4 linked regions of the Homo sapiens genome follow. The protein of the gene in region 2 interacts with the protein of the main gene of each other region in a pairwise test. Each region holds a gene or a part of one and is shown on either strand. Other genes may lie near its edges.

Region 1 (3,500 bases), on a different chromosome or scaffold from region 2:
TTTCCTTGCTTACAGTTGTCAGGATCGTGTATACGCAATAGTACAAAATTACTGTAATCACAAACCAGGCGGCAATATTTTATTTGCATCAGAAGGTCTGATTCTGGCATTTCACTCGCCTATCTTTTGAAGACTGCAAATTGAACCAAGTTTTCTTAGATCCTGTGAACTCTTGCTCAGAGTTACATAGCCAACCAGTGTACCTATTTTTTTTTTTTGAGACGGAGTCTCGCTCTGTTGCCCAGGCTGGGGTGCAGTGGTATCATCTCAGCTCACTGCAACCTCCACTTCCTGGGTTCAAATGATTCTCCTGCCTTAGCGTCCTGAGTAGCTGGGATTACAGGCATGTGCCAGTAAGCCCGGCTAATTTTTTTTTTTTTTTTGTATTTTTAGTAGAGACAGGGTTTCACCATGTTGGCCAGACTGGTCTCAAGCTCCCAACCTCAGGTGATCCACCTGTCTCGGCCTCCCAAAGTGCTGGGATTACAGGCGTGAGTGACTGCACCCAGCCCAGTGTACCTATTTAAGAACAGAGAAAACTTTCCACTTTTAGCAAATGGAATATTGCCATTTATTCCTGAAGAAAATTGTCTGTGTTTTTAATGCCCTATGGCCGTTTCTCCACACCAGCTATTCCTGTGGTAGGCTTTTTCTCTCCAGGATCATTCTAACATGATTTTATAGGAATGGTCATAAGAGGAGGGCCCATCACTTGCTGCTTATTCACACTGCGTATTCATCCTAGAAAAATGCAGTGTGCCGGGCATGGAGACCCCTTATTTTAAACTTTTATTTTAGGTTCGGGGTACATGTGCAGGTTTGTTATACAGGTAAACTCTTGTCACAGGGGTTTGTTGTACATATTATTTCATCACCCAGGTATTAAGCCTAGTACCCAAGTGTTATGTTTTCTGCTCCTCTCTCTCCTGCCATCCTCCCTCCCCGCTCAAGTAGACCCCAGCGTCTGTTGTTTACCTCTTTGTGTTCATGTGTTCCCTCATTTAGCCCTCACTTACAAGTGAGAACATGCAGTATTTGGCTTTCTGTTCCTGCATTAGTTTGCTAAGGATAATGGCCTCCAGCTCCATCCGTGTTCCTGCAAAAGACATGATCTCATTCTTTTTTGTGGCTGCATAGTATTTCATGATGTATATGTACCACATTTTCTTTATCCAATCTGTCATCGCTGGGCATTTAGGTTGATTCCATGTTGTCGGTATTGTGAAGAGTGCTGCAATGAACATTCATGTACATGTGTCTTTATGGTAGAATGATTTGTATTCCTCTGGGTGTATTCCCAGTAATGGGATTGCTGGGTCAAATGGTAGTTCTGTTTTTAGCTCTTGGAGGAATCACCATACTGCTTTCCACAAGGGTTGAACTAATTTACACTCCCACCCACAGTGTATAAATGTTCCCTTTTCTCTGCAACCTCGCCAGTGTCCTGTTCCTGTTGGAAGGGCTTGAGGTGTTGCCCAGAGAGCCACTGACTGCAGCCACTGCATTTCTGACTATTTGATATCATTGTTTTGGGAAGTGAGTCTTTCCATTTATCCTGCTCTCAGGGTACCTGGGCAGCTGCAGGATGATCTTACCCGCAGGGAGCAATGATTCATCCTCAGGGACTTTGGCAGTTTTTCTTGTGCAAGGGCAGCTTGCACTCCCAGGTCAAGGGTATTAGTGCCCTCATTGCATCTAATCTCAGGTTTCCCAGGTCAGATCTCCCTCCCTTTTGCCACTGTGATTTCTTCCTATTCAAATCATGAATCATAAAGAGGAGCTCACGGAAAATCTTTTTATAGAAATGGACGTATTATTTCTATGCCTGCCTTTCTATTTTGGAGGCAGGGAGAAGGGGAAGATGCAAGGCCGGGTCACAGCCGGACAGGATGGGGGCTCTGGTGTCAGCCCTTACCTGCATTTAAAACTGAGATAGCTTTTTCTGACACAGTAAAAAATAATTTGTGCTTTTCAAGAAGTGGAATGTGACCAGGCGTGATGGCTCACGCCTGTAATCTCAGCAGTTTGGGAGGCTGAGGTGGGCAGATCACCCGAGGTCAGGAGTTTGAGACCAGCCTAGCCAACATGGTAAAACCCTGTCTCTACTAAAAATATAAAAGTTAGCTGGGTGTGGTGGCAGGTGCCTGTAATCTCAGCTACTTGGGAGGCTGAGGCAGGAGAATCACTTGAACCTGGGAGGCGGAGGTTGCAGTGAGCCGAGATCGCACCACTGCACTCCAGCCTGGGCAAAAGAACAAGACTCTGTCTCCAAAAAAAAAAAAAAAAAAAAAAAAAGTGGAATGCATTCAAACACAAAACCGCCCTAGCTAATGAAAAAAGGTGTTATCATTAAAAATTATGACCGATTAAAGGGTGAGTTTTAATTATTCATCCAGAGGAATTAGCCACCTTTCGGCTAAAGATGACAGACAGTGGGACAGTTAATGCCTTTGCGTGCACCCCTTTCAGAGAGTGCTTAATGGGACTTGGATTTTCTTTTCTTTTTGATAGGTTGCTGAAAAGCCAGGAGTCAAAATGACTGAGCGCTTTGACTGCCACCATTGCAACGAATCTCTCTTTGGCAAGAAGTACATCCTGCGGGAGGAGAGCCCCTACTGCGTGGTGTGCTTTGAGACCCTGTTCGCCAACACCTGCGAGGAGTGTGGGAAGCCCATCGGCTGTGACTGCAAGGTACCTGCTGCGGGCCTCTGCGGGTCCCCGGCGCTCCCCTAGGAAACACGGGTTTCTCTGTGGTTTGTGCTGAAGCCCTGATCCACCACTGAAGTCTGTCTCTTGAGCCCCCTCTGAGGGGCGTGGACCCTGCGTGTAGCCTTTCGGAAGCTTCTTCCCTCTAGCGAATGTGATCTCTGCCCACAAGCACTGGGTGAGGGCCTTGCCAGGACTTTTGTGCTTAGTATCTCTAAGTACATTTTCTGTATTCTAGCAATTAGTGCCCTTATCTAACTACCCAGCTGCCTACCAATACTGGAACTTTCTTAAGGGTGGTGCTCTCTTCCTCTTGTCTGTTTGCCCCGTGGTGAGTAACGTGGAGCAGGTGCTGTGCTCAGTCAATATTTGATGAATGAATGTGTACATGAGAGAACCAGAGTTGGTTCCTGGATAAATGGGCACATAAAAGCACAAAGTCCTTGGAAGATTGTGAGCTCTTTTCCTTTAATGAGAGAAGGACAGGATTTGTATTGTTTCCTTTCAATGGGGAAATGTGTTCATGGCTCTCCTGGTATGTCACAGCGTGGTTCAGCAAAGACCACTGGTCACTTGTACCAACTGCCCCGTGGTTGAGGGTGGTGAACCCTGACCTGCGCTTCTCAGCAGACTCTTGTTCCAACCTGGATTGCTGAAGGACACCCTGGGGGACCCATCCATAGCTCTGAACTCTCTGATACCTTCACCCGCAAACGGCTTCTAAAACACTCCAGTGAAACCCCTCATGTGGCTGTCATCCTGAGTGCCGTGAAACTGGCTACAAAATGGGATTC
Region 2 (3,500 bases):
ATTAATTTCTTTTTTACATTTTAGGTTGACCATCAATTTATTTCTCAAGTGTTTACATTAAGACTAATCTGTTTCACTAAAAATAAAACAGCAATAATAACAACTGAGAATTCGATAATTAATTTGACTCTCCTCAAATAGAATTTTAATCTATTCTAGAAGTAAATCCTGACTAGAATCATCTAAGACATATCAGTTTTTTTAGGCATTAAAATGTCATATATCATATAGAAAGACACATTGTTCTAGATTATACTGTAACACACTAACACAATACAAATGTAGTAAAGTTTATATTGATAGAAGTTACTTTTCACAATCTCAGGGTTGAAAAGATAGTATCTTGGATATTAAATTTAACTAAATTCTAAGAAAGGTACTTCTAGGAATAACCCAGCCATTTTATATACATATACATCTTTATTGCTTAAAGTCTTTATTTTTAGAAGAGTATAATAACTGTTCTCCTAATAAACTACTTGATAGTCCATTAAATCATTTTGAAACTTTGAAATCAAGCCATATAACTGACTGTCTGTCTGTCTAGGGAATTTCATGTACATTGGACCCTAACAGGAGTTCCAAGGAAATATAAGTCCTGAGCTCTGTGTGACTGAGGAGGAGATCTCCAAGGAAGTATTGAGGTAGATGAGTAGTCTAAGCATATTAAACCAGTAAAACACTTAGCATATATATTTTCTTAAGAAGGTTACTATCTAAGGAGAAGACAGAATAAAATACTAACACAAAAAGTAAATAAAAATGTTAAGTATAATAATAATTAAAGTAATATATATCACAAGGCAATGATACTGCAAAAACTACATAGATAGCAATTGCTATAACAGTATAGCAATGAGAGAAACTGGTTTAGCATGAGGCGGTGAGAAAAGGTTTTAATGGAAGTAATCTTGAATCCTGGCCCAGTAGGGCAGATCAGATTTGAGTTAATACCATGCTACATTCTGCCATACCAACAATGGTGAACATATTTCTCAAGAGGTAAAATGCAATCTATGATGGGACAGTCTGTCTTTCTTTTATTTTAGCATGAGCATTATAAGTAAGGTATTCAAAGAACATACCTTTCAAATATTTCTTTTTCTGTTAAAACATCTAGGTATCCAAAAGGAGAGTCTAATAAATACAAATCAGCATCTTTGTATACTGCTCTAAAAAGAAAATGGAAATTAAATTACATTTCCTCTCTATTTCCTGGTCATCTAGTGTAGATGATTTGCCTTAAACAGTTCACTACATGCATTACAATATGGTCACCACATCGATTCACTGAAATAACACTATTCTCAAAAGTGGTGCAGAAGTAGCACTTTTATACATGTTTTTACTATGGTAGATTATTTTAAATGAGGAATAAAGGAATAAGTTGCAGAAGATTTTTATCACTTTTCACAACATTCCAAGAACTGCTGAAGTGATTTTGCTAACTGTAAGTGGCATAAACTAGCAAAAGTCACAAACTGAACTGTACCATAGCATACACTTTAAAATATTACCTTAAAAAATATTTTAACAATAGTATCTATTTAGAGGCAAGTACCATGCTATGTGCTCAAAATACAATGGCAAAAATTATACAGTTCCTGCCCTTGAAGATGTTGGGTTTTGGTGAGGACACCAAAAAGAAAATAAACTATTCCAAACTGTAAAATGTCAGAGACAGCTAATAAATTACATTACTTATGTGAAATTATTTTTAAAATGTTTTTCTAAGTGTTAACCACTATCAACAAATTGATAGCAGTGCTGCCACAACTGTATAATTGATATTGCATTTTGTTCCTTGTAGTTTCAGTCTCTATATCATATTCATAAAAGTTCCAAATAAGGAAAGTATGAGTAAGTCACAACAAAATGTATATCCATATTATTTTACTATTTAGCTAAAATATGAAACCATAAGCAAGTAAAATCTACATTGAGTTGACCTTAGAACAGTAATAAAGATGAAGACACAGTTCCCATATTAATAGAAATGAGATAATTTCTTCATAACATTTAAATTTTTCAGGTGTGATTGATAGTAACCTTACTTATATCTCAAGTACATAGGATTCTCTGTTTATACATGTAATTGTTGGTACTTCTGTAATAAAGAAAATTGTATTCAGCACACAATTAAGAAATTTTTAAAGCCAATTTAAAAATTTTTTTAAAAACCAATGGCAAAACTTTAAAAGTCTAAAACAACCTTTATAGTGTAACTTATTTTTGAAGACAGTATGCAAGAGCTACATAATGGATCCCATCAAAATGTACACAGTTTCTTCCCCACACTCTGTTCTTAATTCTCTCCCTCACATCTATGACAAGTTTCTTATGAGATTAGAAATAAGAAATTCATCATCCAAAACTGGACAACACATTACACATTCTGATCAGAATAAGAACAGACAATTATTTTTAGTTCCTCAAAGTGTGTGCACCTTACAGCAAAACCAAATCTTAAACTGATAACACAAACTCAGTTCTATGTTGGATGTCTAGAAGCCATATACTCTATCTTATCTAAATTTGTGGAATTCTTAGAATAAGTCTTACTTTGGCTCACAGATAAAAACAATCAACTTCCATTTATTTAGAAGCCTGTGAATTATCCGTATCTATTGATTTATTGCCTTACAGTGTATTTCCAAGATCAAAGCATGGTTTAATGTAAAGAATCAAAAGGACCTGGTTCAAACTGTGACTCTACCATTTTCCTGTATGGCTTTTGGCAAGTTAACATCTAACAGCCTCAATTATCTTATGATCTCTTCTGTAAAGCAGGGAGAACAATTCTTACTTTGCAGAGCTGTAAGGGGATTACATACACACAAAAGTACACACATGACTAGAATACTACCAGGCAATTGCAGGTGCTCAGTTAGGGTTAGTTTCCTGTCTCAGCTTTTGGAAAGCAACAGAAAGTAAGGGAAAGGAGCCAAAACATCAATGAGTCAATGTGATTTCTTGTTAACGACTTTGGCAACAAAGTGAGAAGAATTTTGTTCAGATAAAGCTTGAGAAACATTTGACATCAGAGTCACCAATAATTGTTTAAACTGAAAGTTACAGTTTAACCACAAAGCTCTCTCCTTGACATACATTATCTATATTTACATCTCTTTGACAGCTTTAAAATGCTTGGACCAAGAGTGTTTCTACTAAGGGACCTCCTCCCCCAACAATGTTAATGCATTTGTCCTGTTTATTTTAAATATTATAGATTTTAAGCCAAGTGACATCATTTGCCTTCCTATTTTGTTATGAAAATTATGATGAAAAATTTTGAAAATGTATGTTTATCTATACCAAGAAGCCTAAAGCTGGTGTGTACATTGGAGTGGCAGGGTCTATGATGGAACTAACAGATATTTACATCTTCTCTGTCCAGTATTATGCAGAATCCTAGAGTTTTCCATTTGTAGTAAACTATACTATGAGGCAAACAAATACACTGACACCAAGATACGGGCACAGATTCTGAGTAACCATAA
Region 3 (4,223 bases), on a different chromosome or scaffold from region 2:
ACCTCCTCAAAGGAGGTACTTTGAGCAGAGACCTACGTGAATGGCATAGAGTAGAGCTGGCTATATGACCCCTGGGGAAGCGTTTTCACCAAGAGGAAACAGCAAATGGAAAGGCCATAAGATGGCAGTGTTCTTGGTGTATTTGAGGAAGAAAAAGAAGGCCCACATGACAGAATTCAGGGGAAAGTAAAGGAGGTCAGAGATCTACCTCCAGGGACTAGATCACAAAAGACCTTGAGAGTCATGGTAAAAACTTTGCAATGTAACTACTGGAGGAGGAGAAAACAAAACTTTGTGCTCTTAACTACAAGAAAAAAAAATTGATTTAAAAAAAAAAAAAAAAAAAGGACTAGGAGAAAACATGCCAAAACTGTTAATAGCAGTTTCTCTCTAGGTAGTAAGATTACAGATTTTGTTTTCTGGTACGTCCTAATTTTTCTGAATTTTCCCTATTTCTAAAAATGAATATGTATTACTTTGATACACACACAGAGAATAATGTAATTTTCATAATCCAAAGATCTGAAATTAAAAATATGAATTTGCCGGGCATGGTGGCTCACACTTGTGATCCCAGCATGTTGGGAGGCTGAGGCAGGTGGATTACCTGAGGTCAGGAGTTTGAGACCAGCCTGGCCGACATGGCGAAACACCGTCTCTACTAAAAATACAAAAAAATTAGCCGGGCGTGTGGTGTGCACACTTGTAATCCCAGCTACTCGGGAGGCTGAGGCAGGAGAATCACTTGAACCTGGGAGGCAGAGGTTGCAGTGAGCCAAGATTGTGCCACTGACTCCAGCCTGGGCAACAGAGTGAGACTCGGTCTCAAAAAAAAATGAGTTGATGAAACTTTTCCAGGATTTCAGCATTTTATCTGCTGCCAAATTGTCAGAAGCCAAAATCTCAAATACATCTTAGTCTACAATTAGACTAACTCAGGTTCTTGGGAAGTAGGAGGATTTCCAATGTGCAACATCACCTAGGATTTGGTAGACATAAGATGGACTCAAAAAGCTTCCCAGGTGATGAACATGGATATCTGGGTTAAAAACCACTGTTGAAGATTCATCATCAGATATACCAATGCCTGAGAACTTGAAATACAGTCTGCCATAACAACTAAACTACCAAGTAAGGCTATGAGAATCACATCTAATTCATCTTTGAATCCCCAATGCCTGGCACACTGTTTATACGTAATACGGACTCAACAAACCTTTGTTGGAGAAATGATCCCCAAACTCAAATTTCCTGCTAATTTGGGTAAGGCAATCTTAGAAACACTCTAAGACAACCTGGAAGATGGGAGATCAATATGATACATTTACAGAGCTTTAAGAACCACCTGCATACCGGCTGTGGTGGCTCATGCCTGTAATCCCAGTACTTTGGGAGGCAAAGGTGGGAGGATTGCTTGAACCCAGGAGTTCAAGGCTGGTCTGTGCAACACTGGAGACCCCATCTCTACAAAAAATACAAGAACTAGCCAGGTGTGGTGGCACACACCTGTAGTCCCAAATACTTAGGAAGATGGGTGGGAGGATCACTGGAGCCCAGAAGTTCAAGGTTGCAGTGAGCAATGATCCGCCACTGCACTCCAGCCTAGGTGACAAAGCGACACCGTCTCAAAAAAAAAAAACAAACTCTGCAGTTACCAACAATAGCCAGAGCACTACATTACCATGAATCAAGTCAAATGTTAAGTCTCACATTAATCTAGTCAGTAAGTAAAAGAAGAATCCCTGTCTGTATTACCAAGTAGTGACAAAATTGACATATATGGTAGCTTTATTCTATTTAAATAAGGTACGCATAGAAAATTCCAAATTTCGCCACCACCACCACTTAACTCAATCATTCATCAAATTCACTTCCAGCTCTGAGGAGCTACTGGTATTTCATCTGACCTGTGGTAAAGTCCACAAAACACATCCTCCTCTGGTCCTCTCAGCTAACTCACCTGGGTACTTAAGTTTTCAAGAACAAGAGAGTCCAAAGCTATGGTGGAGAACACACAGGTTTTCCCGGTGCCAGATTTAGCTTGAACAATTAAATCTGCGAAGGAAAAAAACAATTATCACTAGCCAGTACTCACTGAAGCAACTTAGGGGCTAACATGGAATCAGAGAACTAGAAGGGTCTCCTGAGATTCCCCTAGTTGGCACCTTCATTTTTAGTTGATTCTCAAAAACGTATGAGAACACGCCTAGTCCCTGAACGTTTACCGTTTATCTTCTCAAACTTAGAACCATTTGTCAGTGCTTAAAAAAAGGTCTTAACTATCCTCAAGTTCAATAGTGCACGTTAGTTTTACAAATAAGTTAACTGAGCGTAGCGCCTAGCCCCCGGCAGGGCCCTGCTCCGGGGGCCGACCGAGGGCTCTTCCTGAGCTGCGGCGCGGGCCTGGCCGCCGCCGCCCGTCGGTCCCCCTTCTCCCACCCCACCCCCCGACCTATCCCGGGCCCCCGCTCTCACCGAGCCCGCAGCGCCCCAACGGGATGGCCTTGAGCTGCACCGGCGAGGGCCTCTCGAAGCCGGCCGCCCGCAGCCCCTCCAGCACCGGCCGCGAAAGCAGCAGTGACTCGAAGTCGGCCGGCTCCGCCAACAGCACATCCCCCGTGCGGGTCCGCGGGCTGCTGAGATCCTGAGCGGTCCGCAGGATCCTCACAGGCCCGGGTGTTGGCTCTGGGGCCGGGACCTGCACGGCCACATGCTCAGCCGGCATAGCAGTCGCCACTGCTGCTAAGGCTCCCGAGGCTTCAAATGCCGCCGCCATGGTAGCCGCGCCGTCAGATCTCGCGGTGCTTAAGGGGAGGCGGGGATCTTGGGAGCGAGAAGAAGAAAAACTTTATTGGCAGTTTTCCCGCGAAGACACTAACACGCCCGGCCTGGAAGTGGAAGAAAGGGACGGGAGTCGGAGGCTGAGAGACTGCCCAGACACACAAAAAATGTGGCCTGAGGAAAGCCCCAAGAGGGAGGAGAGGAAAGATGAGGCAACTGGTGAGTCGCTGCCTGTGGCCTGCAGAGGGCGCCGCGGGCCTGCGGTGGGGGCACCGCCCCGCCTCTCGGCCCTCTTCTGGGCGGAGCCGCCCAGCCGTGCCCCCGGCGCCACCGCCCTCTCGCCGTTCTTTGTGATGCGCCCGGTGCGTCACGCCCCCGTCTCGTGCTTCCGTTTTCCGTTCCGCTGGCCTGTCTCGCTTCGCGGCCACCTCTTCCCCAACGCTACCCGCTCCGTACCCTGACTCGCTGCTCCTCTGTGCTGGCAGAGAGCGCGCAGAACGTAGCTGGACCCAAGGGTTTATTTACCACATTGGCTGGTGTGTCCATCTGCTGTGCAACCACATTTATCTCCGGTGAGATAAACCCCATTTATCTCCTAGCAAGTCCCTGGCGCACAGTGAGCTCTGATAAAAGTACGTTGAATTGGAACCTGGAACTGGACTAACAGCTCCCAAGTTCGTATCTCCGCCTCAGATCTCCTTTTAAACTCTAGACGTGTGCATCCATCTGCCTCCATGCATCCGCCTCCATGCATCCGCCTCCGCATCCGCCTCCATGCATCCGCCTCCGCAGCACCTCCCTTGGGATGCCTAATAGACTCTCAAATGTTACATGCCTTCTGTATTGCTCCTTCCCCCATCATTTCATGCGTAGGCAGCTAGCAGTCTCTGCCACTTTTCCTTGCTGTGGTCTTCTGCTCAAATATCAGCTTTTCAAAGAGGTCTTGAACACCCTAAGACAGCTCTGTCATCCTCTCTGCTCCCTGGCCTTTCCCAGCACTCTCTTGTTTTGCTTTATTTTTTCTTTATGATACTTATACCTACCTGAAATTATATGTCTTCTGCCTGTCTCCCACACTCTATGAGGACAAGAACCTATTCTGTCTTGTTCTCCTCTGCATCCCTAGTGGGAAAAACAATCTGACACATAGGAAATGTTCAATATTTATCAAATGATTGAGCTCCTATAACAAACTCTTAGTCATCATGCCAAATTTAAATATTTCTGGACCTCAGCCATATTCATAATTCCAAATTTAGTTGTGTGGGGTGGCTCGCACCTGTGATTCCAGCTTCTTGGGAGGCTGAGGCGGGAGGATTGCTTGAGGCCAGGAGTTGCCAGCCTGGGCAACATGCAGAAACCCTGTCTCAAATTCTTAAAAAGTAAACAAATTTTTAAAAATACAAAGAATACCAAACTTAAATATATTCTGCAACCAAGCC
Region 4 (3,500 bases), on a different chromosome or scaffold from region 2:
GAACCCCCGGCCTGGTTCTCACTTGAGCCGCCCCAGCCTTCGGGGCTTGTCAGCCTCAGCCTCCCGCCGCGCCTGCCGCCGCCTCTGCCGCCGCGCCAGCTCCGCCAGCCTCAGGGCCACCTGGGCCTTGATCCCGCGCAGCCGGAACAGCTCCTGGTGCCGGAGCCGGGCGGCCCGCAACGCGGCCTGCTGTACCCGCTGTGGAGACGGGGGAGGGTCAGGGCTCAGGCCGGTGCTGCCCACACAGGGAGACCTTCTCTCTACACAGGGAGCCTTCCCTGCACAAACCTGCCTGTCCCCGGAGGCCCTTCCTAACCCCGTCACATCAGCGGCCCCTCCAGTGCCTTCCCAGCAGCTGTTTGCTGAAGCCCCTTTTGTCATCCATCTCCCCTGGTCTGCGGTGCAGAAACCTCCCCCCACCCCGCCCCTCAAACAGAAGCGCCAGGGACCCTGTCCCACCCCAGCCCGAGCCCTGCCTGGAAGAGGCTGGGAAATGAGTCTCAGCTGTGAGGATCCCAAACAGCCCAAACCACAGGCCACATGCGGGGCTTGGGGTGTGCAGGCTGCCCGCAGCACCCAGGGCAGCCCATGGTGGGAGGAAGGAAGGAAGGGGGCGAGGCATCAGAGGCAGGCCCCGCTGGCCCAGGCGCTCACCAGCCTGTGCACAGCCTTCTCCCGCCGCCGCTGCTGCTCCGTCTTCTTCTCTGTGGTGGCCAGGCGGGCGGGCGTGGGACAGACCTCGGCATCCCCAGCCTCCGGCCCCTCGCCCTGGCCTGGCTCCCCCTCACCATCCGACTCCTCCAGCAGCCCCTCGCACAGCTCCTGGAATGTGGACTCCTGGGGAGGCGGGGTGCAGTGTCAGGGGTGGGTAGGAGGCCCGGGGAGGGGAGGGAGTGGGCAGGTGCGGGGCTCACCTGGGTGGCGGCCTGCTCCGTGGCGGGCAGGGCCAGCTGCCGCTCCAGCTTCTCCGCCTCCTTCTGCCGCTGCAACTCCACCTCGTGGGCCGCTGAGAGCAGGGTCTGAGGGGCGGGAGTGAGGATGGGTCCCTGAACCCCTCCTGGGACACTGAGACTAGACCCTCTTACCTCCCATCTGTCCCTCATCCAGTGCCCGTGGATCCCGCCCCGGCCCAGGCTTTCCTCCCCACACCCCGTCTACCAGCACACCCACCCTGCACAGAGCCAGAGGGCACCTCAAACCCTCGCCCTCACACCTGCTCTGCACGTCTGTGAAGGCAGTCTGACCTGCACGCTTCACATTTTTTTTTTGAGATAGAGTTTCTGTCTTGTTGCCCAGACTGGAGTGCAATGGTGTGATCTCAGCTCACCACAACCCCCGCCTCCTGGGTTCAAGCGATTCTCCTGCCTCAGCCTCCCGAGTAGCTACTATTACAGGCATGTGCCACCATACCCGGCTAATTCTGTAACTTTAGTAGAGATGGGGTTTCTCCATGTTGGTCAGGCTGGTCTTGAACTCCTGACCTCAGGTGGTCCACCTACCTCGGCCTCCCAAAGTGCTGGGATTACAGGTGTGAGCCACCATGCCCGGCCCACAGTTTCATCTATGTGAATTGGTCAGGGTGGGCTGGTCCCTGAGACAGGAAGCCTGGCAGCCCAAGACCACACGAGACAGGGAATTGCGGGGGTGATGGCTGACATGTGTGAGGTTTCCTTTACGGACAGTGAAAATGTTCTAAAATTGACTGCGGGGATGGTTACACAATGGTCACTAAAAGCCACTGAATCACATACTCTAACTAGGCTGACCGTATGGTTAAGTGAATTTTATCTCTACGAAGTAGTTCTGTACAAATCTAAAAGTGAATGTCTGATCTCCACGCCCCCTCCCACATCTGGTCCAGGAACAGATGGCAGTGAGCGGCACCCTCACGCTTTCAACCATGAGCACACTGTTGCTTTTTTCCGCAGACACTTTTCTCTACCAGATGAGGAAGCTGCCTCTGTTCCTGGCTAGCTATCTCCTTCTTATGAATGCTGAAAACGATTCGGACAAGCGGTCCTGCATCTACCGCAAACATCTCAGCATCTCTCCAGTCACGTGACCCCATGAGAAGGGCTGTTCCTTGAGGGAGGGTTGTGCTTGTTTTTTGAGTCTCGCTCTGTTACACAGGCTGCAGTGCCGTGGTGCGATCATAGCTCACTGCAGCCTGGACCTCCTGGGCTCAAGCAATCCTCCCACCTCAGCCTCCCAAGCAGTTGGGACCACAGATGCGTGCTGCCATGCCCTGCTAATTTTCTGTATTTAGTAGAGACAGGGTTTCACCATGTTGGTCAGGCTGGTCTCCAACTCCTGACCTCCAATGATCTGCCCGCCTCAGCCTCCCAAAGTGCTGGGATTACAGGTGTGAGGCACCGCACCCGGCCAAGGGAGGGGTTTTTGTCCCCTTTGTCCACAGCATCTGTGCTCAACAGATGCCCGCTAAATGCACAGTGGCTCCAGCTAGACTTTCCCATCGCTGAGCTAGCCTCGCCCATATATAACTGTCACTTGGCTGCCAGTGTGCCACCGTGTCACCACAGCCTTTTTCATCTCTGCCCCACAGGCTTCCTGGAAGGCGCCACGGTCTCTCTCAACTCTGTGCCTTTGCAGTGCTGTTCCCACCACCTGGAAAACCCACTCCCCTCCTCCCACTGCAAACCCCTCCCTCAGCCTCTGCCTCGGCTCAGGCGACCCCTCCTCCCGGGAGCCCTTCCTGACCCCCCAGGCTGGGCCAGGTGCCCCGTCTGGGCTCCCAGCCCCAACCACTCTGCCCATCACTGTCTGGGAACAGGTCTCTTGCACTGGACCGTGAGCCCCGTTGCGGACAGGCCCAGGGCTGTCTGGGTCATTGGAGTTCCCAGCACAGGGAGGAAGCTAGTGAAGGCCTGACCAAGAGGCAGAGCCCACTGAGGAGGGAGGCCTGGACGGGGCAGTGTACCTGGTGGTCTTCAAAGGATGGATTGTAGGAAGCTCCGGCAGGCGCCACCTCCACGGCGGGTGCCTGGGACGGCTTGGTGTGCAGGCGTGCTGGCCGCTGTGGAGAAAAGGCCGAGGCAGGGTAAGGCCGTGCGTTGGGGCTGCGGGTGACCCAGGACACAGCCATGGGGCAGATGCTCCAGGCCTTGCCAGTGGTTGGGTGTGGGAAGAGCTCAAGGGGCATTCAGGTGACTCCAGAGCAAGACTCCATCTCAGAAAAAGGATAGCAGCCTATCCTCTGCTACCCACGAGGCTGAGCCCCGGAGATTGTAAGCACCTGGGCTCTAACACTTGGGGTCCAGCAGCTCAAGAAGGAGGCTGCAAATCCAAACTCAAACCCGTGACACTTCTGCCACTTGCCAGCACGGGCTCCACCTTCTCATGTGCTACCTCTTTACATTCTCCCCACCGACCCATGATCTAAGTACAATTTCATCTGTATTTTATTTTATTTTTTTTTTTGAGACAGAGTTTCGCTCTTGTTGCCCAGGCTGGAGTGCAGTGGCATGATCTCGGCTCACTGC

Evidence for each region.
Region 1: the proteins of CFTR (region 2) and FHL2 interact in binary tests that used the Homo sapiens proteins (3 or more experiments, as listed by UniProt).
Region 3: the proteins of CFTR (region 2) and DDX20 interact in binary tests that used the Homo sapiens proteins (3 or more experiments, as listed by UniProt).
Region 4: the proteins of CFTR (region 2) and NOP53 interact in binary tests that used the Homo sapiens proteins (3 or more experiments, as listed by UniProt).

Annotation. Positions count from the first base shown.
Region 1 is NC_000002.12:105,385,552-105,389,051, reverse strand, and holds part of FHL2 (four and a half LIM domains protein 2), read left to right. Parts: intron 1-2,511; 5' UTR 2,512-2,535; coding exon 2,536-2,691; intron 2,692-3,152; exon of another isoform or gene 3,153-3,500. UniProt on the Homo sapiens protein: May function as a molecular transmitter linking various signaling pathways to transcriptional regulation. Negatively regulates the transcriptional repressor E4F1 and may function in cell growth.
Region 2 is NC_000007.14:117,588,025-117,591,524, reverse strand, and holds part of CFTR (cystic fibrosis transmembrane conductance regulator), read right to left. Parts: intron 1,173-3,500; coding exon 1,086-1,172; intron 1-1,085. UniProt on the Homo sapiens protein: Epithelial ion channel that plays an important role in the regulation of epithelial ion and water transport and fluid homeostasis. Mediates the transport of chloride ions across the cell membrane.
Region 3 is NC_000001.11:111,754,478-111,758,700, reverse strand, and holds the start of DDX20 (probable ATP-dependent RNA helicase DDX20), read right to left. Parts: upstream 2,801-4,223; 5' UTR 2,777-2,800; coding exon 2,476-2,776; intron 2,056-2,475; coding exon 1,961-2,055; intron 1-1,960.
Region 4 is NC_000019.10:47,752,046-47,755,545, reverse strand, and holds part of NOP53 (ribosome biogenesis protein NOP53), read right to left. Parts: intron 3,035-3,500; coding exon 2,939-3,034; intron 1,020-2,938; coding exon 915-1,019; intron 838-914; coding exon 655-837; intron 199-654; coding exon 23-198; intron 1-22. UniProt on the Homo sapiens protein: Nucleolar protein which is involved in the integration of the 5S RNP into the ribosomal large subunit during ribosome biogenesis. In ribosome biogenesis, may also play a role in rRNA transcription.